Linked DNA regions of Homo sapiens. The protein of the gene in region 2 purifies or fractionates together with the protein of the main gene of each other region. This does not show direct contact. Each region holds a gene or a part of one and is shown on either strand. Other genes may lie near its edges.

Evidence for each region. The genes of interacting proteins can lie anywhere in the genome.
Region 1: the proteins of TMED10 (region 2) and GOLGB1 purify together in Homo sapiens (affinity purification with mass spectrometry; 4 studies listed by BioGRID and IntAct, with this or other methods). This does not show direct contact.

Annotation. Positions count from the first base shown.
Region 1 is NC_000003.12:121,690,742-121,697,768, reverse strand, and holds part of GOLGB1 (golgin subfamily B member 1), read left to right. Parts: coding exon 1-4,028; intron 4,029-5,187; coding exon 5,188-7,027. UniProt on the Homo sapiens protein: May participate in forming intercisternal cross-bridges of the Golgi complex.
Region 2 is NC_000014.9:75,145,597-75,152,623, forward strand, and holds part of TMED10 (transmembrane emp24 domain-containing protein 10 precursor), read right to left. Parts: intron 6,548-7,027; coding exon 6,436-6,547; intron 2,142-6,435; coding exon 2,068-2,141; intron 1-2,067. UniProt on the Homo sapiens protein: Cargo receptor involved in protein vesicular trafficking and quality control in the endoplasmic reticulum (ER) and Golgi.

The DNA of each region.
Region 1 (7,027 bases), on a different chromosome or scaffold from region 2:
ATGGTTCAGCTTAATGAAGAGAAGTTTTCTCTTGGGGTTGAAATTAAGACTCTTAAAGAACAGCTAAATTTATTATCCAGAGCTGAGGAAGCAAAAAAAGAGCAGGTGGAAGAAGATAATGAAGTTTCTTCTGGCCTTAAACAAAATTATGATGAGATGAGCCCAGCAGGACAAATAAGTAAGGAAGAACTTCAGCATGAATTTGACCTTCTGAAGAAAGAAAATGAGCAGAGAAAGAGAAAGCTCCAGGCAGCTCTTATTAACAGAAAGGAGCTTCTGCAAAGAGTCAGTAGATTGGAAGAAGAATTAGCCAACTTGAAAGATGAATCTAAGAAAGAAATCCCACTCAGTGAGACTGAGAGGGGAGAAGTGGAAGAAGATAAAGAAAACAAAGAATACTCAGAAAAATGTGTGACTTCTAAGTGCCAAGAAATAGAAATTTATTTAAAACAGACAATATCTGAGAAAGAAGTGGAACTACAGCATATAAGGAAGGATTTGGAAGAAAAGCTGGCAGCTGAAGAGCAATTCCAGGCTCTGGTCAAACAGATGAATCAGACCTTGCAAGATAAAACAAACCAAATAGATTTGCTCCAAGCAGAAATCAGTGAAAACCAAGCAATTATCCAGAAGTTAATCACAAGTAACACGGATGCAAGTGATGGGGACTCCGTAGCACTTGTAAAGGAAACAGTGGTGATAAGTCCACCTTGTACAGGTAGTAGTGAACACTGGAAACCAGAACTAGAAGAAAAGATACTGGCCCTTGAAAAAGAAAAGGAGCAACTTCAAAAGAAGCTACAGGAAGCCTTAACCTCCCGCAAGGCAATTCTTAAAAAGGCACAGGAGAAAGAAAGACATCTCAGGGAGGAGCTAAAGCAACAGAAAGATGACTATAATCGCTTGCAAGAACAGTTTGATGAGCAAAGCAAGGAAAATGAGAATATTGGAGACCAGCTAAGGCAACTCCAGATTCAAGTAAGGGAATCCATAGACGGAAAACTCCCAAGCACAGACCAGCAGGAATCGTGTTCTTCCACTCCAGGTTTAGAAGAACCTTTATTCAAAGCCACAGAACAGCATCACACTCAACCTGTTTTAGAGTCCAACTTGTGCCCAGACTGGCCTTCTCATTCTGAAGATGCGAGTGCTCTGCAGGGCGGAACTTCTGTTGCCCAGATTAAGGCCCAGCTGAAGGAAATAGAGGCTGAGAAAGTAGAGTTAGAATTGAAAGTTAGTTCTACAACAAGTGAGCTTACTAAAAAATCAGAAGAGGTATTTCAGTTACAAGAGCAGATAAATAAACAGGGTTTAGAAATCGAGAGTCTAAAGACAGTATCCCATGAAGCTGAAGTCCATGCCGAAAGCCTGCAGCAGAAATTGGAAAGCAGCCAACTACAAATTGCTGGCCTAGAACATCTAAGAGAATTGCAACCTAAACTGGATGAACTGCAAAAACTCATAAGCAAAAAGGAAGAAGACGTTAGCTACCTTTCTGGACAACTTAGTGAGAAAGAAGCAGCTCTCACTAAAATACAGACAGAGATAATAGAACAAGAAGATTTAATTAAGGCTCTGCATACACAGCTAGAAATGCAAGCCAAAGAGCATGATGAGAGGATAAAGCAGCTACAGGTGGAACTTTGTGAAATGAAGCAAAAACCAGAAGAGATTGGAGAAGAAAGTAGAGCAAAGCAACAAATACAAAGGAAACTGCAAGCTGCCCTTATTTCCCGAAAAGAAGCACTAAAAGAAAACAAAAGTCTCCAAGAGGAATTGTCTTTGGCCAGAGGTACCATTGAACGTCTCACCAAGTCTCTGGCAGATGTGGAAAGCCAAGTTTCTGCTCAAAATAAAGAAAAAGATACGGTCTTAGGAAGGTTAGCTCTTCTTCAAGAAGAAAGAGACAAACTCATTACAGAAATGGACAGGTCTTTATTGGAAAATCAGAGTCTCAGCAGCTCCTGTGAAAGTCTAAAACTAGCTCTAGAGGGTCTTACTGAAGACAAGGAAAAGTTAGTGAAGGAAATTGAATCTTTGAAATCTTCTAAGATTGCAGAAAGTACTGAGTGGCAAGAGAAACACAAGGAGCTACAAAAAGAGTATGAAATTCTTCTGCAGTCCTATGAGAATGTTAGTAATGAAGCAGAAAGGATTCAGCATGTGGTGGAAGCTGTGAGGCAAGAGAAACAAGAACTGTATGGCAAGTTAAGAAGCACAGAGGCAAACAAGAAGGAGACAGAAAAGCAGTTGCAGGAAGCTGAGCAAGAAATGGAGGAAATGAAAGAAAAGATGAGAAAGTTTGCTAAATCTAAACAGCAGAAAATCCTAGAGCTGGAAGAAGAGAATGACCGGCTTAGGGCAGAGGTGCACCCTGCAGGAGATACAGCTAAAGAGTGTATGGAAACACTTCTTTCTTCCAATGCCAGCATGAAGGAAGAACTTGAAAGGGTCAAAATGGAGTATGAAACCCTTTCTAAGAAGTTTCAGTCTTTAATGTCTGAGAAAGACTCTCTAAGTGAAGAGGTTCAAGATTTAAAGCATCAGATAGAAGGTAATGTATCTAAACAAGCTAACCTAGAGGCCACCGAGAAACATGATAACCAAACGAATGTCACTGAAGAGGGAACACAGTCTATACCAGGTGAGACTGAAGAGCAAGACTCTCTGAGTATGAGCACAAGACCTACATGTTCAGAATCGGTTCCATCAGCGAAGAGTGCCAACCCTGCTGTAAGTAAGGATTTCAGCTCACATGATGAAATTAATAACTACCTACAGCAGATTGATCAGCTCAAAGAAAGAATTGCTGGATTAGAGGAGGAGAAGCAGAAAAACAAGGAATTTAGCCAGACTTTAGAAAATGAGAAAAATACCTTACTGAGTCAGATATCAACAAAGGATGGTGAACTAAAAATGCTTCAGGAGGAAGTAACCAAAATGAACCTGTTAAATCAGCAAATCCAAGAAGAACTCTCCAGAGTTACCAAACTAAAGGAGACAGCAGAAGAAGAGAAAGATGATTTGGAAGAGAGGCTTATGAATCAATTAGCAGAACTTAATGGAAGCATTGGGAATTACTGTCAGGATGTTACAGATGCCCAAATAAAAAATGAGCTATTGGAATCTGAAATGAAGAACCTTAAAAAGTGTGTGAGTGAATTGGAAGAAGAAAAGCAGCAGTTAGTCAAGGAAAAAACTAAGGTGGAATCAGAAATACGAAAGGAATATTTGGAGAAAATACAAGGTGCTCAGAAAGAACCCGGAAATAAAAGCCATGCAAAGGAACTTCAGGAACTGTTAAAAGAAAAACAACAAGAAGTAAAGCAGCTACAGAAGGACTGCATCAGGTATCAAGAGAAAATTAGTGCTCTGGAGAGAACTGTTAAAGCTCTAGAATTTGTTCAAACTGAATCTCAAAAAGATTTGGAAATAACCAAAGAAAATCTGGCTCAAGCAGTTGAACACCGCAAAAAGGCACAAGCAGAATTAGCTAGCTTCAAAGTCCTGCTAGATGACACTCAAAGTGAAGCAGCAAGGGTCCTAGCAGACAATCTCAAGTTGAAAAAGGAACTTCAGTCAAATAAAGAATCAGTTAAAAGCCAGATGAAACAAAAGGATGAAGATCTTGAGCGAAGACTGGAACAGGCAGAAGAGAAGCACCTGAAAGAGAAGAAGAATATGCAAGAGAAACTGGATGCTTTGCGCAGAGAAAAAGTCCACTTGGAAGAGACAATTGGAGAGATTCAGGTTACTTTGAACAAGAAAGACAAGGAAGTTCAGCAACTTCAGGAAAACTTGGACAGTACTGTGACCCAGCTTGCAGCCTTTACTAAGAGCATGTCTTCCCTCCAGGATGATCGTGACAGGGTGATAGATGAAGCTAAGAAATGGGAGAGGAAGTTTAGTGATGCGATTCAAAGCAAAGAAGAAGAAATTAGACTCAAAGAAGATAATTGCAGTGTTCTAAAGGATCAACTTAGACAGATGTCCATCCATATGGAAGAATTAAAGATTAACATTTCCAGGTAAATGAGTAGTGAATTTTTCCTCCTCCAGAGGTAACTTCAAGCAAAGAAAGTCTCTAAACTATTTCTGTTTCCTTTTAGACAATGGGACTAATTTTGGCATAAATGTCCATGGAAGATATATTCTCTCTCACTTCTGACTTTTTTTTGGCAAACAACAATCCTGCTACAACTGCATGAACATGAAAAGTTCGCATCTTCTCTTCCCATCTTTCTATTGAGAGATTTCTGTACTTCTGTTTTGTTTTGTTTAAGATGGAGTCTTGCTCTTGTCACCCAGGCTGGAATGCAATGGCACGATTTTGGCTCACTGCAACCTCTGCCTCCTGGGTTCAAGCAATTCTCCTGCCTCAGCCTCCCGAGTAGCTGGGATTACAGGAGCCTACCAACACGCCCAGCTAATTTTTTGTATTTTTAGTAGAGAGGGGGTTTCACCATGTTGGCCAGGCTGGTCTCGAACTCCTGACCTCAGGTGATCCACCCACCTCGGCCTCCCAAAGTGCTGGGATTACAGGCATGAGCCATTGCACCTGGCCTCTGTATTTCTTTTCATTTCCATTTCAACTACTCTTGCCTGGATTTTTACCACAGTACTCTCAAATTAATTGTCTAGTCTCGTCTTTTCTTCTTCCTTTAGTCCACATTAATTCATACTGCATATACCTCTTAGAGTTATTTTTTCTCAAATTTCAATTTTCTGTCACTTTTTAATCTATAGAACTAATAATGTCTCTCATCCTTTGTATTCCTTACTTCCAATAGGACCCTTCTGTTCTAAAACAGATTTTCTCACTGTCTTTCATATCAAGATTATCCCTTAGAGAAGCCAAACGTTAGCTTGTCTGGAGCAAAGTAGAATAAAATAGGAGAAAATGTTACTTTTCAGTGTTGAAAACCATGTCACTAAAATAAGTGACATATTTTGGAGTTTATGACTTAAATATATGAACCCTTAAGTATGATATACCTTTAATACATAGCACTCAGTAGATAAACATGTAGGTGCAGAGAATTAATACCTCTTCAGTAAAATATTTAACACCTGTTATGAATGTTAATTCATTTGTAAATCTATTGAGTACATGTTATAGTATTTGTTCCTTGGGAAACACAGTTTTTTTCTTGAAATCTGTAACTAATGACCTTCTCTCTGTTTCAGGCTTGAACATGACAAGCAGATTTGGGAGTCCAAGGCCCAGACAGAGGTCCAGCTTCAGCAGAAGGTCTGTGATACTCTACAGGGGGAAAACAAAGAACTTTTGTCCCAGCTAGAAGAGACACGCCACCTATACCACAGTTCTCAGAATGAATTAGCTAAGTTGGAATCAGAACTTAAGAGTCTCAAAGACCAGTTGACTGATTTAAGTAACTCTTTAGAAAAATGTAAGGAACAAAAAGGAAACTTGGAAGGGATCATAAGGCAGCAAGAGGCTGATATTCAAAATTCTAAGTTCAGTTATGAACAACTGGAGACTGATCTTCAGGCCTCCAGAGAACTGACCAGTAGGCTGCATGAAGAAATAAATATGAAAGAGCAAAAGATTATAAGCCTGCTTTCTGGCAAGGAAGAGGCAATCCAAGTAGCTATTGCTGAACTGCGTCAGCAACATGATAAAGAAATTAAAGAGCTGGAAAACCTGCTGTCCCAGGAGGAAGAGGAGAATATTGTTTTAGAAGAGGAGAACAAAAAGGCTGTTGATAAAACCAATCAGCTTATGGAAACACTGAAAACCATCAAAAAGGAAAACATTCAGCAAAAGGCACAGTTGGATTCCTTTGTTAAATCCATGTCTTCTCTCCAAAATGATCGAGACCGCATAGTGGGTGACTATCAACAGCTGGAAGAGCGACATCTCTCTATAATCTTGGAAAAAGACCAACTCATCCAAGAGGCTGCTGCAGAGAATAATAAGCTTAAAGAAGAAATACGAGGCTTGAGAAGTCATATGGATGATCTCAATTCTGAGAATGCCAAGCTAGATGCAGAACTGATCCAATATAGAGAAGACCTGAACCAAGTGATAACAATAAAGGACAGCCAACAAAAGCAGCTTCTTGAAGTTCAACTTCAGCAAAATAAGGAGCTGGAAAATAAATATGCTAAATTAGAAGAAAAGCTGAAGGAATCTGAGGAAGCAAATGAGGATCTGCGGAGGTCCTTTAATGCCCTACAAGAAGAGAAACAAGATTTATCTAAAGAGATTGAGAGTTTGAAAGTATCTATATCCCAGCTAACAAGACAAGTAACAGCCTTGCAAGAAGAAGGTACTTTAGGACTCTATCATGCCCAGTTAAAAGTAAAAGAAGAAGAGGTACACAGGTTAAGTGCTTTGTTTTCCTCCTCTCAAAAGAGAATTGCAGAACTGGAAGAAGAATTGGTTTGTGTTCAAAAGGAAGCTGCCAAGAAGGTAGGTGAAATTGAAGATAAACTGAAGAAAGAATTAAAGCATCTTCATCATGATGCAGGGATAATGAGAAATGAAACTGAAACAGCAGAAGAGAGAGTGGCAGAGCTAGCAAGAGATTTGGTGGAGATGGAACAGAAATTACTCATGGTCACCAAAGAAAATAAAGGTCTCACAGCACAAATTCAGTCTTTTGGAAGGTCTATGAGTTCCTTGCAAAATAGTAGAGATCATGCCAATGAGGAACTTGATGAACTGAAAAGGAAATATGATGCCAGTCTGAAGGAATTGGCACAGTTGAAAGAACAGGGACTCTTAAACAGAGAGAGAGATGCTCTTCTTTCTGAAACCGCCTTTTCAATGAACTCCACTGAGGAGAATAGCTTGTCTCACCTTGAGAAACTTAACCAACAGCTCCTATCCAAAGATGAGCAATTGCTTCACTTGTCCTCACAACTAGAAGATTCTTATAACCAAGTGCAGTCCTTTTCCAAGGCTATGGCCAGTCTGCAGAATGAGAGAGATCACCTGTGGAATGAGCTGGAGAAATTTCGAAAGTCAGAGGAAGGGAAGCAGAGGTCTGCAGCTCAGCCT
Region 2 (7,027 bases):
CTAACATGGTGAAACCCCGTCTCTACTAAAAATACAAAAAATTAGCTGGGCGTGGTGATGGGTGCCTGTAGTCCCAGCTACTCGGGAGGCTGAGGCAGGAGAATGGCGTGAACCCGGGAGGCGGAGCTTGCAGTGAGCAGAGATCCCGCCACTGCACTCCAGCCTGGGCAACCAAGCGAGACTCCATCTCAATAAATAAATAAATAAATACCCTTAATGACAGGCATCATGTTGGAGAAAAAGATTACAATAGGTAAAATTCCACAGAGTACAAATTCAACTGAGAATGGTCCACAGTTCGGGAACAGAAGCAGTAACCACAAACTGGAAATCATTTTACCTATTCTTCTACCTTATAATAATGAGAACATTCTCCCTAGTGTTTTATATCTTATAAAAGCACTTTAACATAATCTTATTTAAATATAATTAAGATTCTTCTGAATCATGAAGGTTTAAAAAAATTTTTCAATTTACTCAAGTTCATCAAATAAAGAGGTCTTCTTGTTTTATTTATTTAAATTAAACTAGCCTGGAAACAGAAACAAACAATTGAAAATTCTCTACCGGAAACTGTCTCCCATTCACAACTGTATCACTTGCTCCTATTTACTGCCTCTAAATAACGCTACCTAGTTTCATTCAATTGAGGATTTGAACAAGGAAAGAGCTGCAACTGTTGTACTACTTCCTGTTGCAGAATTAACCAGTCATTTCCAATCTTCTTCCATTTTAGGATATTTCCCTTCCAAAGTGCTGTCCAAAGAGAGAGCAACTTCTGTTCCACTATTCCTAGACAATTTTCCTAAATCACTTAAACCAATTTTCCTTCATTTACTTAGTTTGCATTCTTCAAAAGCCCATTCTATTTCCTGTACCCCACTCCTCCTTCATGCCCTTACGTACTGTTTTGTTGGGTAAAAATACTCTTATCTTTCTGTAAAGATCAATTATCTAGTCTTAAATAGTTCTTGTGGTTTTTCAAAGGTGCCCTTCATTTGAAGAACCCTTTTGTGCTGCCCCCAAGTCTCGCAGAGATGAAAAAGGCTGTTGTCCTTCTCCTCATTCTGTGTACACCTCCATCTCCCTGTCACCCAAATAAGTGTCAGTTTTTATTAGTCTATAATAAATAACTTCTTATCAGCATCAAATTTCTATTATCACCATTCCTAGTCTCTTGCAGCTTTTTCCTCCATCCTGCCCTCTTCCTTGAAAGTTTGAAATTATTTTAACTAAAAACTATCTTTGACTATTGTTATTTCCCAAACACAAAACAGTTGTTCAAGACTAAACAGCACTGAATCCATGCCCCAGATAGATAGATAGATAGATAGATAGATAGATAGATATACAACTGTTGGTCTTGGGGAAAAAGTCTTAGGAATTAAAAACAAATCACTTTTCTTAACCTTGGGCATTAACAAATAACTGAATTCCAGCTTTAAAAAATTTAAAATATCTCTCTCTACACACACACAGTTCAAGAGAACTAATGCCATATGCTTCAGTGTTTTATCAAACCAACATTCTGTGGGACAGTTTGTTCAGTCTTTGGCTGACAGCACAGCCAGAATTATTCTTCAAGGCTGTTTTTTTTTTTTTTTTTTTTTGAGATGGAGCCTTGCCCTGTCGCCCAGGCTGGAGTGCAGTGGCACGATCTCGGCTCACTGCAGCCTCTGCCCCCCAGGTTCCAGCAATTCTCCTGCCTCAGCCTCCCGAGTAGACTAGCTGGGATTACAGGCGCACGCCACCACTCCTGGCTAATTTTTGTATTTTTAGTAGAAACTTGGTGTCACCATGTTGACCAGGCTGGTATCGAACTCCTGACCTCAGGCGATCCACCCGCCTTGGCCTCCCAAAGTGCTGGGATTACAGGAGTGAGCCACCGCGCCCGGCTAAGGCTGTTAATACCACTTTTTGTATCAGTAAGATCATGGCTGGCTGTCACAAGACTGCTAAGAAACCACAGCCCTTTGGGCAAAGCACAGCCTGTTGGCCTGCCGAGGTCACAGAAACCTCACAGCATAGCACACTGCTGCCTCCTCTGGCTGTTAGAGCAGGACATACCTCTTCGTAATTTTTCGCCTCCACTCCATGCTTCATGTCTAGGATCACGAGTTGGTCAGGTATCCGCCCTGTTCCTGAGAAAGAAATCAAAGGAATCATTGTGTGAAATACTTAAAATTCTGGGAAATTACCCACCCACCCGCCCGCCCTCCCTCTACAGAACCCCTACCCTCTCAATAGAGGGAAACAGCCACAACTCCTCCCCCTGCTCAGTTGCAGAAAATTCCTGGCTCTGGCTAAAATCACAAACATTCCAGACAAAGCCTCTATCTGTGTGGGGTGCCGGAAAGCAACAAGAACATGCTGCTGGCAAACATCTCTGAGCAGGCAAGGACACAAGATACTGCAACTGGTACTACAGAGGAACAGAACAGAAGGGAAACCACACAGGCTTATTGAATTGGGAAATAAAACTCAAAAATCAAAACAGTGTGAAATTGAGTGGCATATAAATCAAGAGATAGTAGGCAACAACTTCGGCTGAAAATGTGTATTTCCACATCTGAAAAGGTTGCCCTGTCAAATTTTGAGGGAAGGCCATGATGAATTAGGATTATTGGATATGTGCTAAGCTTGGATTTACTTAATATAAATCTGAGTACTGAAAAGAACATAAGTTTTATCTAATATTCCACTTTAATTCAAACATTTTGATCAATGTATGGCCTAGTTCAGTAGGAGTACAATGTCATAGAGCTATTCCCACTAAGCCCTTAAAAGAGTTACAACAGCTCAAGGAAAAAAAAAAAACAACTTTAAGTGTTCAAATCTCAGGGATGCTTCTTATAATAGAGTTCATGTTAGAAGAGTCAATCTGATTCAGCTGGATCAAAGAAGCATTCTAATCTTAAATCATCAAGTAGGAGAAAGGAAAAGACCCAAGGAGCCCCAGAAAACTGTTCAGCCCCAATCCCCTGGAATTCACCTAGTTATAAAATTTACAACTGCCTGCATGAAATTAGAAGTTGTGGGAAACAGTGCCACTGAAGCACTGGGGTTCCTGAAACCATAAGCCACACTGAATGGTACTGTACCCTCTGATGCCTGAGAGACACTGGAAGTTTTCTGAAATGAACTGAAGTCAATTCAATAACTACTCATTGAAAACTCACTAAGTACTAAAACTGTGCTGGAGATTTTAAAGAGATATGCTACGGCTTCGATGTGCCCCTCTCAAAGTTCATGTGTTGGAAACTTAATCCCCAATGCAACAGTGTTGAGAGGTAAAACCTTTAATTTTATTTATTTAATTAAAAAAAATTTTTTGAGACAGGTTCTTACTCTTGTCTTCCAAGCTGGAGTGCAGTGGCACGCACCATCATGGCTCACTGTAGCCTCGAACTCCTGGGCTCAAGCAATCCTCCCACTTCAGTCTTTCAAGTAGCTGGGACTACAGGCGTGAGCCACCACACCCAGGTAATTTTTGTATTTTTTGTAGAGACAGGGTCTCGCTATACTGTCCAGGCTGATCTGGAACTCCTGGGCTCAAGCGATCCTCCTGCCTCAGCCTCCCAAAGTGCTGGGATTATAGGCATGAGCCACTGTGCCTGGCGGAGAAGTAGGACCTTTAAGAATTGACTAGGTCATGGGGCTCTGCCCTCATCAATAGATTTAATGTCATTATCATAGAAGTAGGTTTGTTATAAAAGTGAGTTCAGCCCCTTCTTGCTCTCCTGTGCATTCTCTTGCCATGTGATACCTTCTGCCATGTTATTGTGACACAGCAAAAAGGCCCTCACCAGATGTGGCCCCTTGATCTTGGACTTTCCAGACTCCAGAACCATGAACCAAACAAATTTCTACTGTTTATACCCACTCTGCGATGTTCTGTTATAGCAGCACAAAATGGACTAAGCCAGGATACAATCCCTGCCTTCAAATAATTCAATTGGGATCTAAGACATATACACAAAACAACTATGGTGAAAATGCAAAGCACTGTAAAAGTTTAAGCCAAAGGAACTGGTTCAGACAATTCCAATATGGAGCAAAGGGAAGAGGAGAGAAGATTGTAGTTGTGGACAGACTTCACTAAAAAGGGAACACCTAAAGGCAGGACTTAGGCAAAGTACTCTAGGCAGACGGCAAAGCATGAGCAAAGGCTCAGATATTAAAATCGGAGTATGGCATGCTTGAAAGACAGTAAAGAACTTCTTTTGGGATGGGCACGGTGGCTCATGCCTGTAATCCCAGCACTTTGGGAGGCCAAGGCAGGTGGATCTCTTGAGGTTCGAGTTCGAGACCAGCTTGGCCAACATGATGAAACCCGTCTCTACTAAAAATACACAAATTAGCCAGGCGCAGTGGTGCGTGCCTGTAGTTCCAGCTACTCCGGAGGCTGAGGCATGAGAATCACTTGAACCCGGTAAAGTTGCAGTGAGCCAAGATCGCACCACTGCACTCCAGCCTGGGTGACAGAGCAAGACTCTTGTTTCACACACACACAAAAAAAGGACTTCTTTTGGATAGACTGGAAAGATTAACTCGAAAGCAAGAGAAATATAAATAAGACTGCACAGGGTAAGACTGAGAACAAAGTAAGACAAGTCACATGTGTCTTCTGAGCATGAAAACAACAAGTCTTCAAACAAAACAAAACAAAATGTGGCACCCAGAGTGTTCTGTTCTCCCAAATCCAATGTGTAATCCTGATTACGACATTGTCCATGGAAGATGTACTTCCTCATTGAAAAAGTTGTGAAACTTAAGCAGTTCACAGCCCCACCTGGTCCAAATGATCAGGATATCTTCTTTCTTACAAGGTCTTCCAACTACCTCCCTGATTGTCACAGCACAGTACAGTCATGCACTACATGAAGACAGTTCAGTCGAGGACAGACTGCATATATGAAGGTGGTCCCATAAGATTATTATAATACTGTATTTTTACTATATCTTTTCTATGTTTAGATACACAAATAGCATTGTGTTCTAACTGCCTACAGTATTCAGTACAGTCACATGCTTTACAGCTTTGTAGCCTAGGAGCAGTAGTAGGCTATACCATATAGCCGAGGTGGGTAGTAGGCTATAACATCTAGGTTTGTGTAAGTACACTTAATATTTGCACAACGAAATCACCTAACCACCATTTCTCAGAATGGTCGAGTCCAGACTATACAGTCTCTTGCATAGAACTGTCAGCCTATCCTCTTAGCTGACATCATAGCCCTAAAGAGTCTCCTTTGTAAAAGGACCCTTCATAATTTTTCTCTCTGCATTTGCCTGGCAAACAGACAATCCTTTTTGTTTGTTTTGAGACAGAGTCTCGCTCTGTCACCCAGGCTGCAGTGCAGTGGTACGATCTTGGCTCACTGCAATCTCTGCCTCCTGGGTTCAAACAATTCTCCTGCCTCAGCCTCCCGAGTAGCTGGGATTACAGGCATGTGCCACCACCACATCTGGCTAATTTTTGTATTTTTAGTAGAGATGGGGTTTCGCCATGTTGGCCAGGCTGGTCTCAAACTCCTGGCCTCAGGTGATCCGCCCGCCTCGGCCTCCCAACTGCTGGGATTACAAGCGTGAGTCACTGCGCCCGGCCAGTTTTTTTTGTTGTTGTTGTTGTTTATTTTTTTGAGATGGAGTCTCACTCTGTCACCCAGGCTGGAGTGCAGTGACACAATCTTGCTCACTGCAACCTCCACCTCCTGGGTTTAAGTGATTCTCCTGCCTCAGCCTCCTGAGCAGCTAGGGTTACAGGCACGAGCCACCATGCCCAGCTAATTTTGTATTTTTAGTAGAGACAGGGTTTCACCATGTTGGCCAGGCTGGTCTCAAACTCCTAACCTTCAGTGATCTGCCTGCCTTGGCCTCCCAAAGTGCTGGGATTACAGGCATGAGCCACCATGCCCAGCCTTTTTTTTAAGACTTCACTTTGTTAGAGCAGTTTTAGGTTCACAACAAAACTGAGAGGAAGGCACAAAGATTTCCCATATCCCCCTTCCTCTTACATATGCATAGCCTCCCCCATTATCACCATTTCCCACCAGAGTGGTACATTCATTACAAATGATGAACCTACATGGACACATCACTATCTACCAAAGTCCACAGTTTACATTAGGATTCACTCTTGGTGTACATTCCAAATGTAATGTTCGGACAACCATATAATGACATGTATCCACTATTACAGTATCATACAGAATATTTTTACTGCCCTAAAAATTCTCTCTGTTCCACCTATTCAATCTTTTATTCCATGTAGTCGACCTTTTAAAAGGTGCTCCAAAGACTACAAGGTAACAGGTCTCCAAATCAGAATAAATAAAGAATACAAATGAAACTAGATATTAAGTGCTGACTGTATTAAGGAGCATTAGAGTTGGAGAAGATTCTTAATCCAGAGAAACACTCTTGATTACTCACCCTTGCTCTCAAAACACACTTCAAACATGTCATAATCTTCAGTGGTAAAGGCAAATTTCCCCTTGGTTGCATCCTCTTTGGAGTAGAGAATATGGCCAGCAGAATCTGTGATCTAAAATAAGAAAAGTAGTAAGAATAGGCAGCAAATAACACTCAGGAAGAGAACTTACAGAAACTGGGAAGATAGAGACACTATCTATGAAAGACAATTGATAGTTCTCATTATGATGACTATGTTCCAACCATCCCCAAAGACAAAAACTGGATTAGAAGATTAAATCCAAATACAGCAAATTTCATCCATTCAAATAGCCTAATCACACTGTGGGCTAAAATCTGTTGCTGCTATAGGATGTCTTACCATACCAAAAAGTTAATCTAGCTAATGCTCCAAGTTACATACATTGGATTTATTGGCAAAAACTCACTAGTATCATTCCGCATAGAGGAACATGTCACAAAAATGAAAGTAGACAATTATCAAAAGATTATACAAGAGGGACAAAGATATATAAAAACACATTTATTCTATAAAACAAATTTGATGGGGAAGGGGTGTGGGTGGAGAATAAAATTAGGACACACAATACAA